Linked DNA regions of Homo sapiens. The protein of the gene in region 1 purifies or fractionates together with the protein of each later gene. This does not show direct contact. Each region holds a gene or a part of one and is shown in the gene's direction. Other genes may lie near its edges. The genes, in order: ESYT1, EPHX1, DHRS7, ATAD3A, ACSL3, SPTLC2 and NUDT21.

What was found.
Region 2: the proteins of ESYT1 (region 1) and EPHX1 purify together in Homo sapiens (affinity purification with mass spectrometry; one large-scale study listed by BioGRID and IntAct). This does not show direct contact.
Region 3: the proteins of ESYT1 (region 1) and DHRS7 purify together in Homo sapiens (affinity purification with mass spectrometry, with the first as the bait; one large-scale study listed by BioGRID). This does not show direct contact.
Region 4: the proteins of ESYT1 (region 1) and ATAD3A purify together in Homo sapiens (affinity purification with mass spectrometry, with the first as the bait; one study listed by BioGRID). This does not show direct contact.
Region 5: the proteins of ESYT1 (region 1) and ACSL3 purify together in Homo sapiens (affinity purification with mass spectrometry, with the first as the bait; one study listed by BioGRID). This does not show direct contact.
Region 6: the proteins of ESYT1 (region 1) and SPTLC2 purify together in Homo sapiens (affinity purification with mass spectrometry, with the first as the bait; one study listed by BioGRID). This does not show direct contact.
Region 7: the proteins of ESYT1 (region 1) and NUDT21 purify together in Homo sapiens (affinity purification with mass spectrometry, with the first as the bait; one study listed by BioGRID). This does not show direct contact.

Annotation. Positions count from the first base shown.
Region 1 is NC_000012.12:56,134,767-56,138,266, forward strand, and holds part of ESYT1 (extended synaptotagmin-1), read left to right. Parts: intron 1-1,977; coding exon 1,978-2,127; intron 2,128-2,451; coding exon 2,452-2,607; intron 2,608-2,732; coding exon 2,733-2,909; intron 2,910-3,065; coding exon 3,066-3,148; intron 3,149-3,259; coding exon 3,260-3,308; intron 3,309-3,416; coding exon 3,417-3,500. UniProt on the Homo sapiens protein: Binds calcium (via the C2 domains) and translocates to sites of contact between the endoplasmic reticulum and the cell membrane in response to increased cytosolic calcium levels.
Region 2 is NC_000001.11:225,827,124-225,830,623, forward strand, and holds part of EPHX1 (epoxide hydrolase 1), read left to right. Parts: intron 1-1,601; 5' UTR 1,602-1,606; coding exon 1,607-1,789; intron 1,790-3,500. UniProt on the Homo sapiens protein: Biotransformation enzyme that catalyzes the hydrolysis of arene and aliphatic epoxides to less reactive and more water soluble dihydrodiols by the trans addition of water.
Region 3 is NC_000014.9:60,143,619-60,146,008, reverse strand, and holds the end of DHRS7 (dehydrogenase/reductase SDR family member 7 isoform 1 precursor), read left to right. Parts: exon of another isoform or gene 1-995; coding exon 996-1,043; 3' UTR 1,044-1,890; downstream 1,891-2,390. UniProt on the Homo sapiens protein: NADPH-dependent oxidoreductase which catalyzes the reduction of a variety of compounds bearing carbonyl groups including steroids, retinoids and xenobiotics.
Region 4 is NC_000001.11:1,518,662-1,522,161, forward strand, and holds part of ATAD3A (ATPase family AAA domain-containing protein 3A), read left to right. Parts: intron 1-259; coding exon 260-329; intron 330-1,479; coding exon 1,480-1,645; intron 1,646-1,886; coding exon 1,887-1,956; intron 1,957-3,500. UniProt on the Homo sapiens protein: Essential for mitochondrial network organization, mitochondrial metabolism and cell growth at organism and cellular level. May play an important role in mitochondrial protein synthesis. May also participate in mitochondrial DNA replication.
Region 5 is NC_000002.12:222,864,036-222,867,535, forward strand, and holds part of ACSL3 (fatty acid CoA ligase Acsl3), read left to right. Parts: intron 1-3,500. UniProt on the Homo sapiens protein: Acyl-CoA synthetases (ACSL) activates long-chain fatty acids for both synthesis of cellular lipids, and degradation via beta-oxidation.
Region 6 is NC_000014.9:77,610,138-77,613,637, reverse strand, and holds part of SPTLC2 (serine palmitoyltransferase 2), read left to right. Parts: intron 1-3,500. UniProt on the Homo sapiens protein: Component of the serine palmitoyltransferase multisubunit enzyme (SPT) that catalyzes the initial and rate-limiting step in sphingolipid biosynthesis by condensing L-serine and activated acyl-CoA (most commonly palmitoyl-CoA) to form long-chain bases.
Region 7 is NC_000016.10:56,437,833-56,441,332, reverse strand, and holds part of NUDT21 (cleavage and polyadenylation specificity factor subunit 5), read left to right. Parts: intron 1-1,586; coding exon 1,587-1,676; intron 1,677-3,500. UniProt on the Homo sapiens protein: Component of the cleavage factor Im (CFIm) complex that functions as an activator of the pre-mRNA 3'-end cleavage and polyadenylation processing required for the maturation of pre-mRNA into functional mRNAs.

The DNA of each region.
Region 1 (3,500 bases):
TTTTGTATTTTTAGTAGAGACAGGGTTTCACCATGCTGGCCAGGCTGGTCTCGAACTCCTGACCTCAGATGATCCGCCTGCCTCAGCCTCCCAAAGTGCTGGGATTATAGGCATGAGCCACTGCACCTGGCCTTAGTTCATAGGTACTTGTTCTTGAATGATTTTATATATGTGTGTCTTGTCTATGAAACTGGCCAGTAAGCATTGTGAAAGCAGATGCTATGTTTCGTGCTTTCTCCATGACCTTTAAAATGCTGAATGTTAACAATTTTATTGAGGCATAATTTACATACCATAGAATCACTCATTTTAGGTATACAAAAATTATTCTGAGGCTGGGCACGGTACCTAAAATGAGTGATTTTATGGTATGTAAATTATGCCTCAATAAAATTGCTAACATTCAGCATTTTTTTTTTTTGAGACAGTTTCGCTTTTGTTGCCCAGGCTGGAGTGCAATGGCGTGGTCTCGGCTCACCGCAACCTCCACCTCCTGGGTTCAAGTGATTCTCCTGCCTCAGCCTCCTGAGTAGCTGGGATTACAGGGATGTGCCACCATGCCTGGCTAATTTTTTTTGTATTTTTAGTAGAGACGGGGTTTCTCCATGTTGGTCAGGCTGGTCTCGAACTCCCAACCTCAGGTGATCCGCCCGTCTCAGCCTCCCAAAGTGCTTGGATTACAGGCGTGAGCCACCGTGCCCGGCCCAACATTCAGCATTTTAAAGGTCATAGAAAAAGCACAAAACATAGTATCTGCCTTCACAATACTCACTGGCCAGTTTCAGTTTCATAGACAAGACATACACATATAAAATCATTCAAGAACAAGTACATATGAACTAAGGCCAGGCATGGTGGCTCACACCTGTAATCCTAGCACTTTGGGAGGCCAAGGCAGGTGGATCACCTGAGGTCAGGAGTTTGAGAATAGCCTGGTCAGCATGGTGAAACCCTATCTCTACTAAAAATACAAAAATTAGCCAGGCATGGTGGTGCGTGCCTGTAATCCCAGCTACTTGGGAGGCTGAGGTAGAATTGCTTGAGTCCGGGAGGCGGAGGTTGCAGTGAGCCAAGATAGCGTCACTGCACTCCAGCCTGGGTGACAGAGTGAGACTCCGTCTCAAAAAAAAAAAAAAAATCAAAAATTTGCCAGGTGTGGTGGCATGTGTCAGTAATCCCAGCTACTTGGGAGGCTGAGGCAGAAGAATCATTTGAACCCGGGAGGTAGAAGTTGTAGTGAGCTGATTTCAAGCACTGCACTCTAGCCTGGGTGACAGAGCAAGACTCTGTCTCCAAAAAAAAAAAAAAAAAAAAAAGGAACAGAAGAATAGCAACAATTACATATGAATTTGTGGGAGTAAAATATCCATAGTATAGGACTAAGGAGGGTCAGAGAAAGGGATAGGCTGGAGTAACTAGGGAGATTTTGTGAAGCAAAAAATTGGATTTTAATTGAGTCTTGAAGGATGAGTAGGATTTAAATAGGCCGAGGGAAGAGAATGAGGACTTTCCAAATAGTGGGAGCAGAATGAACAAAGGTGGAAGGGGCCATGGATTGGGCAGAGGACTATAAAAGATGGCTCTGGCCGAGGTGGGCGGATTGCCTGAGCTCAGGAGTTTGAGACCAGCCTGGGGAACACCATGAAACCCTGTCTCTACTAAAAAATACAAAAATTTAGCTGGGCGTGACGGCATGCGCCTGTAGTCCCAGCTATTTGGGAGGCTGAGGTAGGAGAATGGGTTGAACCCAGGAGGTCGAAGTTGCAGTGAGCCAAGATGGCGCCATTGCACTCCAGCATGGGCGACAGAGTGAGACTCTGTCTCAAAAAAAAAAAAAAAAAAAAGATGGCCCTGAGTGGAGCAGGAGGTTTGTGATTGGTACAGAGAGGAATGAAGTTGGAGCCATGTTATCATTTTCACAGTATGCCTCCCTTTCCCCTAATCCCTTCACTACAGTCCTTCCTCCTGTGCCTGTAGGTGAAGGATGATTCCAGGGCCCTGACTTTAGGAGCACTGACGCTGCCTCTGGCCCGCCTGCTGACTGCCCCAGAACTCATCCTGGACCAGTGGTTCCAGCTCAGCAGCTCTGGTCCAAACTCCAGACTCTATATGAAACTAGTCATGAGGGTATGGAAATAGAGGAGGTACTGAGGTGTGGGGGAAAGGCCTGTTGATTCTTTGGTATTAAGAGTAAGGAAAGGGACCCCCCTAAGATTAAAAGAGCTAATACATGTAGAAGTGCCAAGCAGGCACAAAAACATATATTGATCTGACTGGTGGAAGGAATGGCTTATGAGTTGAGGGGGTGTGGAGGGAACCCTGTAGAGATGAGCCCAGCCAGGGCAGCACCTAGTTCCCCTGTCACAGCCCCTCCTCTACCCCACCCCACATGCTTTGCCTGCTGGTGACGAGCTGCACTTCTTTGATTCAGCATCATACTACCCTTCCTAGATCCTGTACTTGGATTCATCAGAAATATGCTTCCCCACGGTGCCTGGTTGTCCTGGTGCTTGGGACGTGGACAGTGAGAATCCCCAGAGAGGCAGCAGTGTGGATGCCCCACCTCGACCCTGTCACACGACTCCTGATAGCCAGTTTGGGACTGAGGTGAGTCTATATCTGGAAAGGACTAGGGTCTGTTTGCCCCGCTAAGTATGCAAAGCCTGTTTCAGGGCAGATTCTGACAGGTCTCTCTCCCTTTGCCATCTGGCACCCCCCCGTCCCTTTTGCAGCATGTGCTTCGGATCCATGTATTAGAGGCCCAGGACCTGATTGCCAAAGACCGTTTCTTGGGGGGACTGGTGAAGGGCAAGTCAGACCCCTATGTCAAACTAAAGTTGGCAGGACGAAGCTTCCGGAGCCATGTTGTTCGGGAAGATCTCAATCCCCGCTGGAATGAGGTTTTTGAGGTCAGAATTGAGTGGCTGTGACTCCTGGTTCTGCCCCATTTTTCCCCCAATCCCAAAAGTGGTCCAGAAACCTCTGAGGTTCAGTTGACTGGGGGGTCCAGTCATTTGCAGAGGAAAAGGAGAGAATCTTTCATCTGCACTATTTTCTCCCACTAGGTGATCGTCACATCAGTTCCAGGCCAAGAGCTAGAGGTTGAAGTCTTTGACAAGGACTTGGACAAGGATGATTTTCTGGGCAGGTGAGAGCATAGGAGTCTACGTGAAAAACAGGCTGGGGCTCTTTAGGCCATGGAGTCTGGCCTCCTTGGTTCTCACCATCTAGCTTTTGTCTTAATCTTTCTCTTCAACAGGTGTAAAGTGCGTCTCACCACAGTCTTAAACAGTGGCTTCCTTGATGAGGTGAGCATTGAATTAGAGTCAACAACCCCTCCTGATCCTGCCCAAGCTTCATTCTCAAAGTTCTCCTGTCTGCATATCCCCAAGTCTTCACCCTGCCTACTTCCACAGTGGCTGACCCTGGAGGATGTCCCATCTGGCCGCCTGCACTTGCGCCTGGAGCGTCTCACCCCCCGTCCCACTGCTGCTGAGTTA
Region 2 (3,500 bases), on another chromosome or scaffold:
GGAGCAAACTCCAGGGCCTCTGCAACCCCCCAGCAGAGTCCCAAACATCTGACATGTAGCCAATGGAGGACATGCAAGTGGTGGGGTTCCCAGCAGGGACCACCTCCTGCCTTGGGTTTCCAAGACAGAGCGAGGGGCGCTGCTGGGGCGTGGTTTGCAGGGGCCTTGTCAGAACTCGATGCTTTCTCCTCCGTCTGGGTCCTAACTGCAGTGCATCTAGAGACCCTCCTCTGACTCAGGCATAAGGACGGCCCGCATATTCATGCAGGTTACTCTGAACAAGAACAGTCTATGGGTTACTTCCCTAGGAATGAGGAAGATGAAGAGCTAGATAACAATGCTGGGCTGGTATCTGCCTGATAGTGCTTTGCCAAGACTATGGTTTCTTCCTCTTCTGATCAAAAAAGACACAGGAGTCAGACAAATGGGGATTAAAAGACAACTGAGTTGATGTGAAATGTAACAGGCAACACTATGGACACAGAAAGTAGATTAGAGGCTGCTTAGGACCTAACGTGGAGGGCAGTAGGGGAGCGACAGCTGAAGGGTATGGAGTTTCTCCGTGCCGATGAAAATGTTCTACAGTTGACTGTGGCTATGGCTGCACATGTCTGTGAATATCCTAGAAACCACTGGAGGGTTCACTTTAAATGGGCGAATTGTATGGTATATGAATTATGTTTCAATAAAGCTCTTACACAGCTAAGCTGTGTGGCCATGGCTGGGCTTCCTAGCAGTGTCCCCCAACCCCAAATTGAACTTACTCTCCCAGCACTTGGGCCTCCCCATTACCCCGTCTGCCCTGAGGATAAGCCTCTCTCCAAGAAGGACAGAGCAGGGGCTGTGGGCCACCATTCAGGAAAGGTGCTCCTCTCCCCTGGGGGAGGGAACCCAGAGGTCATGGACAGAAGCCTTCTCAGACATGCAAAAAACATGAGGCTGTCGGGCGCCGTGGCTCACACCTGTAATCCCAGCACTTTGGGAGGCCGAGGCGGGCGGATCACGAGGTCAAGAGATTGAGACCATCCTGGCTAACATGGTGAAACCCCATCTCTACTAAAAATACAAAAATTAGCTGGGTGTGGTGGCACGTGCCTGTAGTCCCAGCTACTCGGGAGGCTGAGGCAGGAGAATGGTGGGAACCTGGGAGGCAAAGGTTGCAATGAGCTGAGATTGTGCCACTGCACTCCAGCCTGGTGACACAGTGAAACTCCATCTCAAAAAAAAAAACAACATGAGGCCTCAGAAATGTAGCTCCCAAAACCCCCTACCCAGGGCTGTGCAGAAGCCAAACCAGGTTCCTATTTTCCCAGGATGATGAACAGTTTTCAAAGCTTAGTAGGATTGTGGGTGATTTTGTCTCATTGTCTGTTGTTTTTCCATTTTTCTAGATCATATATATATAATATTTATACTATATATAATATGTATATAGTGTGTGTATATATATATATAATATGTATATATTAGGTCAAGTGTAAATAAAATCAGGGACAGGGTTGGAGCGCAGCAGGAAAGAGCCTGCTGGGGATCAGAGTCTCTGGGCTGTCAGGGCCGGGCTGGGCGGGCTCCGTTGTTAATGGCTTCCCCTCATCTTGCAGGAGCCATGTGGCTAGAAATCCTCCTCACTTCAGTGCTGGGCTTTGCCATCTACTGGTTCATCTCCCGGGACAAAGAGGAAACTTTGCCACTTGAAGATGGGTGGTGGGGGCCAGGCACGAGGTCCGCAGCCAGGGAGGACGACAGCATCCGCCCTTTCAAGGTGGAAACGTCAGATGAGGAGATCCACGTAAGGCACCTTGGGCCGGGCCGGGCTGGGCAGTGGAGAGGGTGGTGTGTCGAAGACAGGGGTTGGGTCTTAGGCCAGATGCGGGAGGGGACGGGGGCTTGGGAATGGTCCATCCTACTTGGGAGTGTGTTTCAGTCTGCTTTTCCTCTGCTGGGCAGGTGCAGGTTGCTTTGGAGAGGGATGCCCAGCCCTCCCACTTTCTCTCTTCTCCTTTCCCTACCCAAGGCCCAGCAGTGCTCAGGCAGGAGATGGGGTAACCTGTATCAAAGGTCACAGAAAGCAGCTGTCATCACCTCCTCTATGCCCTGCCTGAAGCCTTGGGAGTGAGGTTGTGGGAGAAAGTGAGCAGGTTCCCGTCAGAGACCCAGGAAGCACTGAGAAGGCAGGGATGCTACTGGTTAGGCACCGGCTGTGTGTCAGCCATTCCTGGTCACATTCAATCCCTACGGTGATCCCGCGGGGTGAGGATTGTTGTTCCCAAACTGCAGATGCAGAAGCTGAAGCTCAGGGGCATAAAGCAACTCGTTCAAGGCGGCCTAGCTAACATGCGGAAGGATTTGAAGTCCAATCTAATCCTGAAGCTGCTGCCCCTCCTCTGCACAGGGATAGAGTCAGGAAGGAGGTGACTGGGCAGGTGGGGTGAACTGAGAATGCATTCTCGGGGAGGAGCAAGGCTTGAGTGGGGGACAGGACGGTAGGCAGGCCTGGCATGGCCCTGCCAATCCTTTCTTTCATTCCGTGGGTTTTGAGCACCTACTGTGTGCAGGCCCAGTGAGTGCTTGGGAGAAGAGACAGCCCCTTCCGTCCAACAGCATACAGTCCAGTGAATGAGAAAAGGAATGTGCACAAAGAAAAGTAGACTAAAAGATAAATAAAGATAGGCTAGGTGCGGTGGCTCACGCTTTTAATCCCAGCACTTTAGGAGGCTGAGGCGGTGGATCACCTGAGGTCAGGAGTTCAAGACCAGCCTGGCCAACATCGTGAAACCCCGTCTCTACTAAAAATACAAAAAATTAGCCGGGCATAGTGGCGGGCACCTATAATAATCCCAGCTACTCGGGAGGCTGAGGCAGGAGAATCCCTTGAACCCAGGAGGCAGAGGCTGCAGTGAGCCAAGATCACACCACTGCACTCTAGCCTGGGCAACAAGAGTGAAATGCCATCTCAAAAAAAGAAACAGATGCATAAGGATAAATGTCACAAAAAGCATGGATAAAAGTCATGAGAGTTCCAAGGAGGAAGAGATTTAAAAGCAGAAGCTGGGCTAAACCCAAGAGCAACCAGGCTGAGGCTCCCTGGGTAGGACTTGCTTGCTGCAGCCTTGCTATTTAGGGCCAAGGCTGAGCCCTAAGGAAAGCTCCTTTAGGGAATTAGACTCCTAAGGGAGTCTGAGATTTCCAAAATCTGTTTGGGGGTAACTGAAACACTTGGGAAGAAGCCTGGGAATGGTGATGCTTGAGAGGCTCTCTAAGCTGACATGAACTTCCTCCCTCTGGGGCTGGCCTTTTAGCCTAATACATGCCAATGAGACTTGCACCCTCTCTCCTGGTCTGTAAATTTTTTAGTTTTTGGAGACAGGGTCTTGCTCTGTCACCAGGCTGGGGTGCAGTGGTGCGATCTTGGCTCACTGCAACCTCCGCCTCCTGGGTTCAAGCGATTCTCCTGCCTCAGCCTCCCAAGTAGCTGGCATTACAGGCACCTGTCACCATGC
Region 3 (2,390 bases), on another chromosome or scaffold:
TTATTGATAAGCGTCTAAGTTAAGAAAATGCTAGCATAGCTTATTTCAAGCTAATAGTACTTGTTAACTAGAATTTGCTTCTTTAGTCTGTATGTCTGGAACTTTGTTTTTATGAATCTTTATTATTTTTAGGGATCAAGAACAGTGGCTACACTGAATTTTGTATTATCATTATTATTATTTTGTCTTTCTTAGTGCAAAGTTTTGAAAGTGGTAAATGCATATCTTCTGAAAAGAAACATCACATCTTGGGGATTATCAGGTTGCCTTGTTTTATTCCTTAAGCAATATACAAAAAGTTCACAAATAATTTTTTTTTCTTTTTATTTTTTTTGAGACAGAGTTTCCCTCTTGTTGGCCAGGCTGGAGTGCAATGGCGCAGTCTCAGCTCACTGCAACCTCCGCCTCCTGGATTCAAGCAATTCTCTTGCCTCAGCCTCCCGGGTAGCTGGGATTACAGGTGCACACCACCACACCCAGCTAATTTTTGTATTTTTAGTAGAGATGGGGTTTTGCCAGGCTGGTCTCTAACTCCTGACCTCAGGTGATCTGCCCACCTCGGCCTCCCAAAGTGCTGGGATTACAGGCATGAGCCACAGTGCCTGCCTGGCCACAAATAATTTTAAAGAGTTATCTTCCATATATCTCAATTCTACATAATCTGACTCATTGTTTTTATTTATTAGGGCAAGTCAGTGTAGGTATGATATGCTGATCCAGAAAAGTCATTATAGAGAATTTAGCATTGCAGTCCAATGCTATTTATACCTCCTCTAAACCAGAGATGATGCTAAACTCATTAGAAGTACTTTTGTGTACATCTAGAATTTTGGCTATGATTTTTAAATTCTAATTTAAGCAGTTTCTGAACTTTTGTAAAGATTCTTAATAGTGAATCATAATGATACAGCTCCTCAAAACAGAAGGACTTAAATGTTAAAAACTGGAGTAAATAGGAGTAGGTACTGATCCATGTTTCTGTCCCTCTTTTACAGGATGCAGACTCTTCTTATTTTAAAATCTTTAAGACAAAACATGACTGAAAAGAGCACCTGTACTTTTCAAGCCACTGGAGGGAGAAATGGAAAACATGAAAACAGCAATCTTCTTATGCTTCTGAATAATCAAAGACTAATTTGTGATTTTACTTTTTAATAGATATGACTTTGCTTCCAACATGGAATGAAATAAAAAATAAATAATAAAAGATTGCCATGAATCTTGCAAAAAAGGTATTAACTCATACTATATTCTTGGATAAAATAACCTTTTAAAATACTTTAGCACATATGCTTAAAATCTAAGTTAACAGATTTGTCTTAGTCCATTTGTGCTGCTATAACAAAATACCACAGATTTGGTAATTTATAAACAACAGAAATCTGTTTTTCCTGGCTCTTGAGGCTGGGAATTCCAAGACCAATGCACCAGCAGAATTAGTGTCTGGTGAAGGCTGATCTCTGCTTCCAAGATGGCACCTCATTGCTGCATCCTCCACAGTGGAGGAATGTATGTCCTCACATGGTGGAAGGGACAGAAGGGAAAGAGGAGCAAAATGCTTTCAAAAGAGCATTTAATCTCATTCATTACTCAGTCACCTCTTAAAGGCCACATCCTTTAATACTGTTGCTTTGGGGATTAAGTTTCGACATGAATTTTGGAGGGGACAAAAACATCCAAACCATAGCAACATAAATGTATAGAATATTTCACACAAAGCAGAGTGCTGGGTAATGACCAGATATAAAGAAGTATTTGAAATGACCTTACCTCCAAGATGCTTATACTCTTAGAAAAGTTGACAGGTACAGATGGCTGTAATTTGAAGCAGCAGGTAGGATTCATTGCACCTATTATTCATTAAACACCTGTTGTATGTCTTCTACTGTACTGGAGTGCTTAGTATTAGTTAATTAACTCATTCCTCATAACAGCCCACTAAGATAGATGGTATTACCTACCTTGATAGATGAAGAAAGACCAACAAGGTTTTACTTTTCCAAGGTCAAGGTCACAAAGCTAGTAAGGGGTAAAGCCATGATTAGATTCAGCTCAGGAAGATTCCACTGGCAACTCCTTACTTCTACTATTATTAATTTTACTTTAACATTTAACACCTTACAGCAGAAAACATGCACAGGCACTAATAGGAAATCAGCAGGAGTAACAGGTAAAGAAAAACATGGTCCTTATCTACAAGCAGTTCACAATTGAGCTGGAGCCAAAGTAACATACATAAAATAACTGTAGAATAGTTGTTGGGCAAGTTGGAAGCCACCCAAGTGGCTGTCCTTGGAAAAGGGGGAAGATGACATGTGGTAGAGGTACACGATGAGGTATAGCGGGTAGAAGCAATGGAATAAATGCATACATAACAACATGGATATGTA
Region 4 (3,500 bases), on another chromosome or scaffold:
CGGGTACACACACACACACACACACACACCCAAACGGGTGCACAACCCACCCACACATGGGCACAATCACCCCCACACACATGGGCACAGTCACCCGCCTGCACATTCGGGCACCGTCACCCCCCGCAAACGGGCACCGTCACACCCCGCAAACGGGCACACTCACCCCCCTGCACACTCGGGCACAGTCATCCCCCGCACACATGGGCACAGTCACAGGTTTTAAAGGCTTTTCTCTTTTTCTGCGGCTTCTTCTCAGCAACTTCTCAATGAGGAGAATTTACGGAAGCAGGAGGAGTCCGTGCAGAAGCAGGAAGCCATGCGGCGAGGTAGGCTGTCTGCTCTCCTGGCTGGGGCGGAGGTGGCGGGGGCTGCTTGTGGACCCGGCGTGCACTCTGAGCCTGAGTTCTGCCGCCCGGCCCCTCATAGCTACCAGTGCAGTGGGCGAGGCCTGCTGGGGCTCCGCGGGGTGGGGCTGCCTCTCGGAAGACACCTCTGTCTGCGAGTGGACGCCAGGATCTGTTCAGGGAGGGCAGGAGCTGCTTCACTTCATGGGAAGTACAGGGGCCTTTTTTTTTTTTTTGAGACGGAGTCTCGCTCTGTCACCCAGGCAGGAGTGCAATAGCACGATCTCAGCTCACTGCAACCTCTGCCTCCCAGGTTTAAGCAATTCTCCTGCCTCAGCCTCCCGAGTAGCTGGGATTATAGGCTCCCGCCACCACGCCCAGCTAATTTTTTTGTATCTTCAGTAGAGAAAGGGTTTCACTGTGTTGGCCAGGCTGGTCTTGAACTTCTTGATCTCATTATCCGCCTGCCTTGGCCTTCCACAGTGCTGGGATTACAGGCGTGAGCCTCTGCGTTCTGCCTAGAACATGGGTCTTTACTGTCCTGGTTTCAGTGGGGATCACAGGTATTTGGTGCCATGTGGCATTTGTTGGCGAGTGCTCCAGGCAAACGTCTGTCACCACTCTTCACCGTGGGTGGGCTTGTGGCGAGGTGTGTGCGTTTAATGTTCAGTAGCCAGGCACGTGGCACGTCACGCGTGTCTGAGTTCTGACAGCTGTGTTTCTGTGTGAGGGGGGCTTCCTTCAGAACTCCGCGTTCTGGTTTTTTGCTTCAAAGAGCTCGTCCTGAGAAGTTGCCTAGGCCTCTGGGTCGGATTTCTGCCCTAATCCATGGGCAGGGCCGGCCTGTGGCGCTGTCCCTACCAAGGTCTGTGTGTGTCTGTGGCATGGACCTGTCCGTGGCCTTAGCCTATTGGCGGCGTGGGCCTGTCTGTGGCGTGGGCCTGTCCGTGGCCTTAGCCTGTCAGCAGTGTGGGCCTGTCCATGGCGTGGGCCGGTCCGTGGCATGGGCCTGTCTGTGGCGTTGGTCTGTCCGTGGCGTGGGCCGGTCCGTGGCGTGGGCCGGTCCACAGTGTGGGTGGAGGTGGACGCGCTGCACTGCATGGTGCTGAGCTGCCCTGCCTCTCTGGGGCAGCCACCGTGGAGCGGGAGATGGAGCTGCGGCACAAGAATGAGATGCTGCGAGTGGAGGCCGAGGCCCGGGCGCGCGCCAAGGCCGAGCGGGAGAATGCAGACATCATCCGCGAGCAGATCCGCCTGAAGGCGGCCGAGCACCGTCAGACCGTCTTGGAGTCCATCAGGTGAGCACTGCCGAGGCCCGGGCCGGCCACAGATGGAGCCCCGCAGGTGTGAGTCGCTGGTCCCAGGGCGCTCTCCAGCTCTTCCAGGCCTTGCCGCCGTAGGCTGACTCCTTGGTGGGGGCACTGCCCCTCTGTCCTGGCAAGGCCGTGCCGCCATGTCAGGGCCTCACCCTCAACCTGCTCTCGCTGCGTGGCACGGATCTTCGTGTCCTTCCTGGTCACACCACTGCTTTCCCCGCAGGACGGCTGGCACCTTGTTTGGGGAAGGATTCCGTGCCTTTGTGACAGACTGGGACAAAGTGACAGCCACGGTAAACATACTCATAAAACAGGGCTGGCAGGTGGCTGAGGGGCAGCATGTGGGGGCCTCCTGGAGCCCCAGGTCCTGTCCCTGCCGGCTCTGCACAGCCCTGTAGCTCTCCCAGCAGGGAGGAAGCCCACGTTGTACCTGCTGGCCTCGGCTTCTCCTCCCTTCTCAAGCTGGGAGAAGAAAACGCAGTTGCCAGCCTGGGCCACACAGTGAGACCCCATCTCTACAAAAAATCAAATATTAGCTGGGTGTGGTGGCAGCCCCTGTGGTCCCACTACTCAAGAGGCTGAGGTAGGAGGATCACTTAAGCCCAGGGAGGTTGCAGCTGCACTGAGCTGAGATCGCAGCACTGCACTCCATCCTGGGCGACAAAGTCCTTGTCTCAAGAAAAAAATTGTCGATAGTCGTGGCTCACACCTGTAATCCCAGCACTTTGGGAGGCAGAGGCAGAGGCGGGCGGATCACGATATCGGGATCGAGACCATCCTGGCTAACACGGTGAAACCCCGTCTCTACTAAAAAAATACAAAAAATTAGCCGGGCGCAGTGGCGGGCGCCTATAGTCCCAGCTACTCAAGAGGCTGAGGCAGGAGAATCACCTGAACCCGGGAGGCGGAGCTTGCAGTGAGTCGAGATCACGCTACTGCACTCCAGCCTGGGCCACATAGTGAGGCTTCTTCTCAAAAAAAAAAAAAAAAAAAAAAAAAAAAAAACCAGAAGGCAACCCTGACTCCATTTTGCAAAAACCTTCTTTATTCCTTATAAAACCCTGAGAGTTTGAAGTTCACAGATTCTTCTCTCGTTTAAAGCCTCACTCTTTTGTGCCCAGCCTCCGGCCTGCTGTGGTGGCGCCCCACGTCCCACATGGCTGTGTCCTCCGTCCCCACCCCGCCCAGCACACGGTAGGTGCCCGGCACTGAGTGGGCACTTGCTCTGCCGTGGTGCCGGCGCCCAGAGCTGTGACTGCAGCGCCTGCCGGTGGCCTGGTCAGTGTGACGGTGAATGTTGCAGGTGGTGTTGCCACCATGTTGGTGAGACCGTGTCACGTGAGGACATGACGGAGCTGCTTAATGCGCCGATGACTTTTGTTTGTTTGTTTTTAGAGACAGGGTCTTGCTCTGTGGTCAGACTGGAGTGCAATGGTGCCATCTCGGCTCACTGCAACCTCCACCTCCCCAGTTCAAGCAGTTCTCCTGCCTCAGCCTCCCAAGTGACTGGGATTACAGGCTCACGTCACCACACTCAGCTAATATAGGCCTGTGCCACCAGGCCCGGCCAATTTTTGTATTTTTAGTAGAGATGGGTTTTCACCATGTTGGCCAGGCTGGTCACGAACTTCTGACCTTAAGTGATCCAGCCGTCTTGGCCTCCCAAAGTGCTGGGATTACACGGGTGAGCCACCGGGCCTGGCCTAATTCATTTTTTGTTTGTTTGTTTTTTGAGACAGAGTTTTGCTCTTGTTGCATAGGCTGGAGTGTAGTGGCGCGGGTCCAGCTCATTGCAACCTTTGCCTTCCGGGTTCAAGAGATTCTCCTGCCTCAGCCT
Region 5 (3,500 bases), on another chromosome or scaffold:
ACAGAAATACTGAGAAAATGGAGATAAAAAATTGTCAGGATATGGTGATAAATAGTAAATGGAGTGGGAGAAAGAGGTGCTAAGTGATTACTAGGTTTCAGACCTATGCAACTAAAGAGGTATGTGTGCTATTCACTGAGCTGGGGCTTAACTGGTAGAGAACTAGGTTCTGGATATGGGAAGGGCATGACTTTAGTTTTGGAAGTGTTCAGCTGGAGCTGCCTTTGAGGCCTTTATTGAGGTACTGGTTTTGTGCTGAGAATTGGGGTGGCCATTTACCGTTTTGAAGACCTCCATGTAGAGGCAAGAGCTCAAACCATGGGTATGGGTGAGATTGCCTGTGGGGAGGCTATAGAATAAGAAGAGAAGGAGGCCTGGGATGGAGCTGGGCAGAGGAGGTTGAGCTTGTCAAGGAGACAAGAGTGGCCAGGAAGGTCAGAGGACAGCCAGAAACAGATGTTCCTGCAAGGCGATGAGTCAGTACTGTGGAATGCTCCTATGAGAGAAGAATTGAGAACCATCATTGAATTTAGCAACATGGAGGTCACTGGTGACCTTTGAAAGAGATGCTGATCTGCAGGTAGGGGTGGGATGGGGAGCAGTGGGAGGTGAGGAAAACGGAGACAGAAACTGTTTCCAATAGGTTTGATTTCAGCATGTTTAAATGCTGATGGGAAGGCTCAGTGGAGAGGGAGTGGTTGAATATAGACTAGAAAAGGGTTTGTGCAGAGTTCCTAAAAGGATGGGGTTGGGATGGGACCCAAAGTACAACTGAGGCCTGTGTCTTTGCTGGGAGGAGGGGACACCTTCCACAGTAACAGAATACAGGCCTGTAACCTATGGAGTACTAAGCAAATGCCAAAAATTGTCAAGAACTGTTAAATTTCTAAAAATTAGCCCAATTTTAGTTGACTCATGACAGTCTTTTAGAAAACTTTGTTGCAAGAGCATTGTGTGATTGATTTAAAATGTGGCTCAGTCTTAATTTCATCCCTCAATAGAGTATATATTTTCATCTGACTTTTGATTGTAATTTATTTATTTTCTGAAAAAGGAGACATTGTAAATGTTAAATCCTGTGGTGCCTTCCTTACATGTTTATTTTTGGTTTCATTAGAAAAAAGCTTTCAGACGGTTTCTGTTTTCCTGACATCATAGGTGCCTTAATTCTTTTAATTTAAAGTTTAGCTTCTGTTATTATTGGAATATGTTTATTTACGTATTTTTGATGTTTCCCATTTTGAAGGGTAAAGAATTGGATGATTCAGTAGTTTCAACTGATCTGCTAATTTTTGTTTAGAATTGAAGATACTTAAATAACCAACCTTTTGGATAAGTGGCCTCCAAATACAGCTTTCTGCTTGTTTGTGAAGGTATTTGTTATTAAGGATTCATTCATTCATGTATTTACTTAGTGTCTGTTTTGCAAGGTACTCGGAATTTGGAAATGATTGGGCGAGTTCCTGCTCTTAAGGAGCTCACAGTTCACCACAGGAAAGAGGTGTATGAACAAATTACAGCATGGTGGAACAGAAGAAGGTATATGAGCAAATATATTACAGGATGGTATAATCAGTGCAGCAGTGGAATCTGCTAGGAAATAGAGAAAAAGTGCAGAGCAGGCACAGAGTAGGGAAGGAAAAGGGGAGACTTCTCAGTGGAGATGATAGCTGAACTAGGTTTTCCAAGATGAACTGGAGTTTTCCCAGGTCAACAGGGAGCCAGGAAATAGAATGTTTTACCTTGATTTTGGATCCTCTGTGTGTGTGTGTGTGTGTGTGTGTGTGTGTACACAGATGTGTACGCATTGGAGATGTTATAACGCTACCAAAGAATATTGTTAGAAAAATTAAAAATTGCTTATCTTACTATCCTCATGTTGATTGCTCTAGCTGTGAAAAGCTGCACATTTTCCCCTGTCCTGTCATGGTCAACTTTTCTGTCTCCTATTTGATGCAGAAAGTAACTGAACTTAATTATATTATTTGGATACAAAGCCTAGTTTTTGTTTTTCTAAATGAATGGTCTTTGGAATAAGGATAATAGCCAACACCTTTATAGTATACTGTGGCCAAATGCTGTTCTAATTTTTATCTCAGCCTTGCAAAATAGGTACTTTTTTTTTTTTGAGACGGAGTCTCGCTCTGTCCCCCTGGCTGGAGTGCAGTGGCATGATCTCGGCTCACTGTAAGCTCCGCTTCCCGGGTTCACGCCATTCTCCTGCCTCAGCCTCCTGAGTAGCTGGGACTACAGGTGCCCACCACCATGCCCGGCTAATTTTTTGTATTTTCGGTAGAGATGGGGTTTCACCATGTTAGTCAGGATGGTCTTGATCTTCTGACCTTGTGATCCGCCCGCCTCGCCCTCCCAAAGTACTGGGATTACAGGCTGGGAGCTACTGCGCTGACTGCAAAATAGGTTCTTTTATCATTCTAATTTTTACAGCTGAGGAAACTGAAGCACAGAGCAATTTAAGTGACTTGCACGATTGTGTGCTAAATGTGTGCTGGATTTCATCCCAGGCACTTTGGTTCCAGAGTCCCTGTTCTTAACCTGGGCGCTGCATCTCCTCTCTGGAGTGACAGTTTGAAGTTCATGTTAACCTTTGAAGGCATGATTGTGTAGGGAAAGGAGCTGTGATGACATTTAGGGGCAGTTTTATGTCTGTTTTAATTACACAAAGTTGCTGCCCCAAATAAAACTGCCCTGCCCCCCCCGCCCCCCCCCCCCCCCCCCCCCCCCGCCCCGGGGAAATCATAAGGAAATTGAGAGAATTTAACTAGAATTTTCTTTTTTTTCTTTTTCTTTTTTTTTTTTGAGACAGAGTCTTGCTCTGTCACCTATGCTGGAGTGCAGTGGTGTGATCTCTGCTCACTGCAACCTCCGCCTCCCGGGTTCAAGCAATTCTCCTGCCGCAGCCTCCCGAGGAGCTGGAATTACAAGTACCCACCACCACACTCGGCTAATTTTTGTATTTTTGGTAGAGATGGGGTTTCACCATGTTGGCCAGGCTGGTCTCTAACTCCTGACCTCGTGATCTGCCCATCTCAGCCTCCCAAAGTACTGGGATTGCAGATGTGAACCACCATGCCCGGCCTAGAATTTTCTTTTTGGACTTGAACATAATTCCTCAGGATGCTTTCCCCTTTAACCTTACTTCGCAGGAATTGTTATTGACTTTTTAGATTGGAATATAAAGGAATTTGGGATCCCATAGTCTGCTAATTCCATTTTCTTTTCCTGTCTTTTAACTAAAATATTGACGCACTTTCTGTATGTTTGAAAAATATTTCATAAAATTTAATCCACTTAAAGAAACCCACTCCTTTCCCCCAAATCTTACAGCTAACCACTGCTCTGAATTTGGTGTTTATTATTCCTATGTATTTCTGTACAGCTTTATTACACATGTGTGTTTCCTTAGACAGTGTATAGTATTGTTTTGTGTATTCTTAAACTTTATATAGATGGTACTGCATGTATTCTTGTTCAGCATACTG
Region 6 (3,500 bases), on another chromosome or scaffold:
AGAAACGTCTAGGATCACTTTACACTCTCAAGAGTATGTTTCTGTGCTTGAAGAGATGAATGAATGTGTATAGTAAAAGAACAACTCTTGGATTTGGGTTTAGAATTTGATGAGCTAGATGCTGTGTTAAGGAGTTATGAAACAATCACACATTGCTGTTTAGTGATGACAGTAGACACACAGTTTTCACAATAGTAACAGTTGAACAATAGAGCAGTAATTTTTCCTCTCTGCTATTCAGATGAGTGGGAGGAGCACAAACCTTTATTTGAGGTAAGGTGTGGCAATTTGCCCGAGGGAAACTTTTACATTAGCATTGGAAAGAACCTTTGGGAGTTTATTTAATTCAGTCCTTTATCTCTTTGTAGGAGTTTATTAAAATCAGTCTTGATAGAAAATTCTGTACTGTTTTTAAAGATCTCCAGGGGATTTGCAGCAAGTTTTTCTCTATAGCAAATTGGATTATTATTCCATGATCTTAATTACCAAATTTCTTCCTGTGGATTTAACATTTGATGAAATAAATGCCATGTTTTGGTTGCACCTGAAATATAGTAGTTTGTTTGTGTGTTTGTTTTTAAAACTTCACGTTAACAGCTCTTTTTAAAAGAGCTTCCATTTCTTTATAGAAGTTTTGAGATTTAGGTTTTCCTTTTACTTTCCTGAGTTAGTTAATAAGTGTGAAAGAAAAAAAGTTATCTACCTTTGAGACAGTTTTGACCCTAACTTTTTTCCCTTTGGGTGTAGTTTTAATGAGATATTAGAAGGATGAGAGCTCTCTGGCTTACAGAATAAAAAATTCTATCTCAAGGAATTGGGGCAAAAGTTGTGTTCTTATGTTAAATAATAAGCAAAGTAGAAAGAACAAAGTGTTAGTCTTGCTTCTTAGGAGGAGGCAAATAAATAACTAATAAAGCTGGTTTACTAAATAGCTACTAGCTTTTGTTTCCACTGAGGGAGAAACAGTAACTGGGGGTTTATATGTGATAGTTAAGGAAAAGGAGACGATAGTTATGAGGCTAGAACAGTAGAAATAGTTAGAATAGTCATATATCTATTTAGATTTAGCAGATCCTGATAAGATACCTCAGATACCTGAAGGCTTTTCAGAAATAATGTAATTTACAACTTGGAGGACAAGATTTTCATTTCAGTTTTCACTCTAAGGGGAAGCATATCTTGATTCTTACATAGCTGCATCTGAAGAATTCCAGAGTTATTTGAGATACTCAGGAATTTTCTTTAACAGGAATTCTTGGGAAATGTGTAAGCAGCTATGTTCTTAAGATAGTATTTTAGAACTAGGATGTTCAGAAAAGTCAGACTTGCCCACTTTTTAGGGTTTGCCCATGTGCCATAGAAATTTGCACCGCTTTGAGCAAGACAGTTAATTGGTTGATTTAATTAGATTCAGTTTTTGGAAGAAAGAAGCAGTGTTTATTGGTAGAATAGGCAATTCAGAGGGATGGGTAGAGGCACTGTTTGCATTCTGAGTGGGTGTGCCATACTTGATTAAATAAATGGTTTGTGGACTCAAAGTCAGTTCCCTTCTGGGTAGTTTCTGAGAAGCTTCTGTAATATAATTCACAATTTGTGACCGATAAAAAAGTAAGTCCTTTGCTCTTGACCCATTTACTGTTAGAAAATTTATCTTAAGTTTGTCTTTAAGACTACTTTTTATTGCAAAGCTTGAGGCAGCTATTCTTCCTTTTTTAAAAAAATAATTTTTACTTCTCATTATAGAAATAATACATGTTTAATGTGGGATCATAAAACATTGAGATAATCTCTGCGTTAGGTTTTTTTTTTTTTGAGACGGAGTCTCACTCTGTCGCCCAGGCTGGAGTGCAGTGGCGCCATCTCAGTTCACTGCAGCCTCCACCTCCCGGGTTCAAGCGATTCTCCAGCCTCAGCCTCCTGAGTAGCTGGGATTACAGGCATGCGCCACCACGCCTGGCTGATTTTTGCATTTGTAGTAGAGACAAGGTTTCACAGTGTTGGCCAGGCTGGTCTCGAACTCCTGACCTCAGGTGATCCACCTGCCTCCGCCTCCCAAAGTGCTGGGATTACAGGCGTGAGCCACCACGCCTAGCCGGAGGTTTGTTTTTTAATGTGGTCTATTGTAAATCCATCTGCTACTTTCCGTTAATTTCTTTTCTTTCTTTTTTTTTTTTTTTTTGGCGAGATAGGGTCTCGCTCCAGCCTGGCCTGCAGTAGCACAGTCATAGCTTACTGCGGCCTCAACTTCTCGGGCTCAAGCGATCCTCCCATCTCAGCCTCCCAAGTAGCTGGGTCCACAGGTGTGCACCACTACAGTGGGCTAATTTTTTTTTTTGAGACAGAGTCTTGCTCTGTCACCCAGGCTGGAGTGCAGTGGCGCGATCTTGGCTCACTGCAAGCTCTACTTCCCAGGTTCACACCATTCTCCTGCCTCAGCCTCCCGAGTAGCTGGGACTACAGGTGCTCACCAACACACCCGGCTAATTTTTTTTTTTTTTTTGTATTTTTAGTAGAGACAGGGTTTCCCCATGTTAGCCAGGATGGTCTCGCTCTCCTGACCTTGTAATCCGCCTGCCTCAGTCTCCCAAAGTGCTGGAATTACAGGCTTGAGCCACCATGCCTGGCCTTTTTTTTTTTTTTTTTTTGTAGAGATGGGTCTTACTATGTTCCCCAGGCTAGTCTCTTTTTTACTTAAACAAACAAACAAAAATAAATAAAAATATATATATATAAAGAGAGAGGGAGACAGAGAGAGAGGGAGACAGAGTCTCACTATGTTGCCCAGGCTGATCTCAAACTGTTGGGTACAATCGATCCTCCTGCCTTGGCCTCCTGAAGTGCTGAGATTATAGGTGTGAGCCACCGCACCCAGCCACCCAGGCTGGTCTCAGACTCCTGACCACAAGCATCCTCCTGCTTCAGCCTACCAAAGTGCTGGGATTACAGCCACTGTAGCAGACTATTTTGTGATAATTTCTAAGTACAGTGAAATATGCGGTTGTACTGATACTATGGGTGTGATCCAGTCTTACTCCAAAAAATAGGTATTAAGGGCTGGGCACAGTGGCTCATACCTGTAATCCCAGCACTAAGGGAAGCCAAGGTGTAAGGATTGCTTGAGCCCAGGAGTTCAAGATCAGCCTGGGCAACGTGGCGAGACCCCATCTCTATTTAATTAAAAAATAATAAGGTATATGACCAGGTACCGTGGCTCACGCCTGTAATCCCAGCACTTTGGGAAGCCGAGATGGGCGGATCACTTGAGGTCAGGAGTTTGAGACCAGCCTGGCCAACATGGTGAAACCCCGTCTCTACTAAAAATGTAAAAATTAGCCGGGTGTGGTGGTGTGTGCCTATAATCCCAGCTACTCTGGGAGTCTGAGGTAGTAGAATCGCTTGAACCCAGGAGGTGGAAGTTGCAGTGAGCCAAGATGGTGCCACTGCACTTCAGCTTGGGCGACAGTGAGACTCTGTCTCAACAAAACAAAACAAAACAAAAC
Region 7 (3,500 bases), on another chromosome or scaffold:
CCTGGGTGGTGGAGGTTGCAGTGAGCCAAGATTGCGGCACTGCACTCCAGCCTGGGCAACAGAGCGAGACTCTGTCTCAAAAAAATAAAATAAAATAAAATGAAAATCAAGAAACTGTCATAAAAGAATATTTTGGCTGGGCATGGTGGCTCACACCTGTAATCCCAGTGCTTTGTGGGGCTGAGGCCGGAAGATTGCTTGAGGCCAGGAGTTGTAGTGAGCCATGATTGCGTCGCTGTGCTCCAGCCTGAGTGACAGAGCAAGACCCTATCTCTTAAAAAATGTAGTTTTGAGGCCCGGTGCAGTGGCTCATGCCTGTAAGCCCAGCACTTTGGGAGAGTGAGGTGGGCAGATCATCTGAGGTCAGGAGTTCGAGACCAGCCTGACCAACAGGGTGAAACCCCATCTCTACTAAAAAGACAAAAAATTAGCTGGGCATGGTAGCATGTGCCTGTAATCCCACCTACTCCGGAGGCTGAGACAGGAGAATCACTTGAACCTGGGAGGTGGAGGTTGCAGTGAGCCGATATTGCGCCATTGCACTCCAGCCTGGGCAATGAGCAAAACTCCGTCTCAAAAAAAAATTTTTTTTTTGAAAAATATGACTTTACATTGAAGAAACGTGATAAACAGTACCTCAGCCCATTAGTGATAAGCCATATTGATATAGCATGTACCTTTGATATGACGTGATGAGAATGGCCCTTTTACCTCTGTAGTTTTCTTCCCAAAAGCTCATAACTTCAATTTAATTGAGGGATGTTTTACAAAATACTTGACCAGTATTCCTCAAAGCTATCAAGATCATCAAACACAAGGAAGGTATGAAAAGCTGTCACAATGTAGAGGAACCTCGGAAGAAATGAAGATTAAGTGTAATATGGTATCTTAGATGGGATCCTGGGACTGAAAAATGAAAAAGGACATTAGGTTAAAGACTATGGATATCTGAATAATATATGGACTTCAGTTAATAATCTTGTCTTGGTATTGGTTGATTAGTTTGACAAATGTGCTTTACTAGTGTGAGATGTTAACAGTCGGGGAAACTGTGTGGGGTATATGAGAAGTCTCTGAACAAGTTTTGCAAGTTTTCTGTAAATCTAAAACTATCCTAAAATAAACCGTTTATTTAAGACCAAGAAGAATGCTTTTAAAAATAGAAGAAAACATGAGGGGAAAAACAACCAAGAGTTGAAAGTTACAGCCAGTGGGAATGGGTGAAGCAGGACAGAGAACTGCAGTTTCTCACCATGAACATTGTAGAACTATTTTTGGCCACTTAAAATATGTAGAGTATGACTTTGGTTAAAATAAGTTTAGTGTTCTGCTATACAAATTAATAAAAATGAAAGCTGAATTTTGAACACAATTTTTATGTTGATACTAGCTTGCCAGTTTTGAACTAATATTGTATGTCTTGGGCAGAGTGACATCTATATTAACAAATCATAGAAAATCTGTATGGAAGGCATATTATCCCTATGTTTCAATTAGGAGCACTGCTAAGAATTTTCTGTTCACTGAAGAAGGGGATTTGTGAGTACATATATTTAGTTGTTTACTGGCTTATTTCTTTTTGACAGATACTGGGTCGTCAGGATGGAGTTTTGCAAGACTGGGTCATTGACGATTGCATTGGTAACTGGTGGAGACCAAATTTTGAACCTCCTCAGGTCAGTGTTCAGTTACATTTGCTGGGCATTTTGGAAGCAGAAAGCTCGTTTAATTCTAGCCACTTTAAAAAAGATTAAAGTAGAATTTGACTTGAAATTTTCTTTTCTTCCCTCCTTAATTTAAATTACAAAATTAAGCCAAGCACTTCTTATTTTAAAGGAAAATGTAAAACAAATACAAGGCCGGGCGAGGTGGCTCATGCCTGTAATCCCAGCACTTCAGGAGGCCGAGGCGGGTGGATCACCTGTTGAGGTCAGGAGTTTGAGACCAGCCTGGCCAACATGGTGAAAGCTCGTCTCTACTAAAAAATGTAAAAATCAGCTGGGTTTGATGGTACAAGCCTGTAATCCCAGCTACTCCGGAGGCTGAGGCAGGAGAATTGCTTGAACCTGGGAGGCAGAAGTTGCAGTGAACCGAGATTGTGCCATTGCACTCCAGCCTGGACAACAGTGAGACTCCTTCTCAAAAAATAAATAAATAAATAGAACAAATACAAAAGAAGAGAGAATGGTAAAAGTGAATGAATTGCGCTACCCGTCGTCTGCCTTTAACAGTTAGCACATCACAACCCCTCATTCCACCGCTTCATTCTCCTACCCTCATCTTGGATTATTTTGAAGTGTATCCTAGCTATTCATTTCAATTGTAAATATTTCAGTGTGAATCATAAAAATAAGGATCTCTTTAAAAAGATAACTATAGTACTGTTATTATCATACTAAAAATAAACAATTCCATATTATTGTCAAATATATAGTCACTGTTCGCGTATCCTGATTATTTCTATTTTCTTTTTATAATTTGTTTGGATTAGGATAGTCTCTAAAGTCTCTTTTACACACTTGGCACCTTTTTTTTTTCCTTGTGTTTTATTTGTTAATGAAAACAGGCTAATGTTTCCATTTCGATTGCATTCCCCTGTTGTTGTTGAATATGTAGCTGTTTCCCCTGTGTGTCTTGCAAATTGATAGTTAGATCTAGAAATTGTATTCAGGCTCAGTTAATTTGGGGAGGGGTAACAAGGCTTGTCATAGGCGGTATATAATCTATACCTGCATAACAAATTACCTCAAAATTTAGCAGCCTTTAGGCCTCTGGGAGTTGCTTAGGGTGGTTCTGGCTTAGGCTCTGTCATGAAGTTACAGTCAAGTTGTCAGCTGGGACTGCATCATAAGGTGGAACTGGGGTTAAAGTATCTGATCCCGAGCTTACACGTGTGTGTGTTAGCAAACTTCTTAGTTTCATCTGGGCTGTTAGACTAAAGCTTTGCTTCAGGTGTTGCTGGCTGTTGTCTCAAGGTCTCCCTCAGTTCCTTGCCATGAGAACATCTCTAAAAGGACAACTCTCAGGCAGCTGGCTTACCCAAGGCTGTGTGATCCAAGAGATAGTGAGAGACAGAGTGCTAGAGGAGTGCCCAAGTAGGAAGCCTCAGTCTGTGATAACCTAATCTTGGCAGTGGCATACCATCACTTCTGCTGTGTGCTATTGGTCACACAAGCCAACCCTGGTACGCTATAGGAGGGACTACACAAAGCAGTGAATACCAGGAGACAGGAATCATTGGGGGTCATCTTAAGGCAGTCTATCACAATTGGTATAGTGTACTTCCATCAGGAATTTAAAAATATTTGGTTGTTTCTTGTTGTAATGTTAGCAGCTCATTGATGATCATTTCCTGGTCTATGAATTCATAAGGGTTGTGATCCTCATATAAAAAGAAACTTATGTATTACTGAAGTGTGTGGTTTGTGTAGAAAAAAAAAATATGCTGCTATTCCTTTACTTAACATTTTTCAGAAGAATGACTTAATTCCTTAGCATCC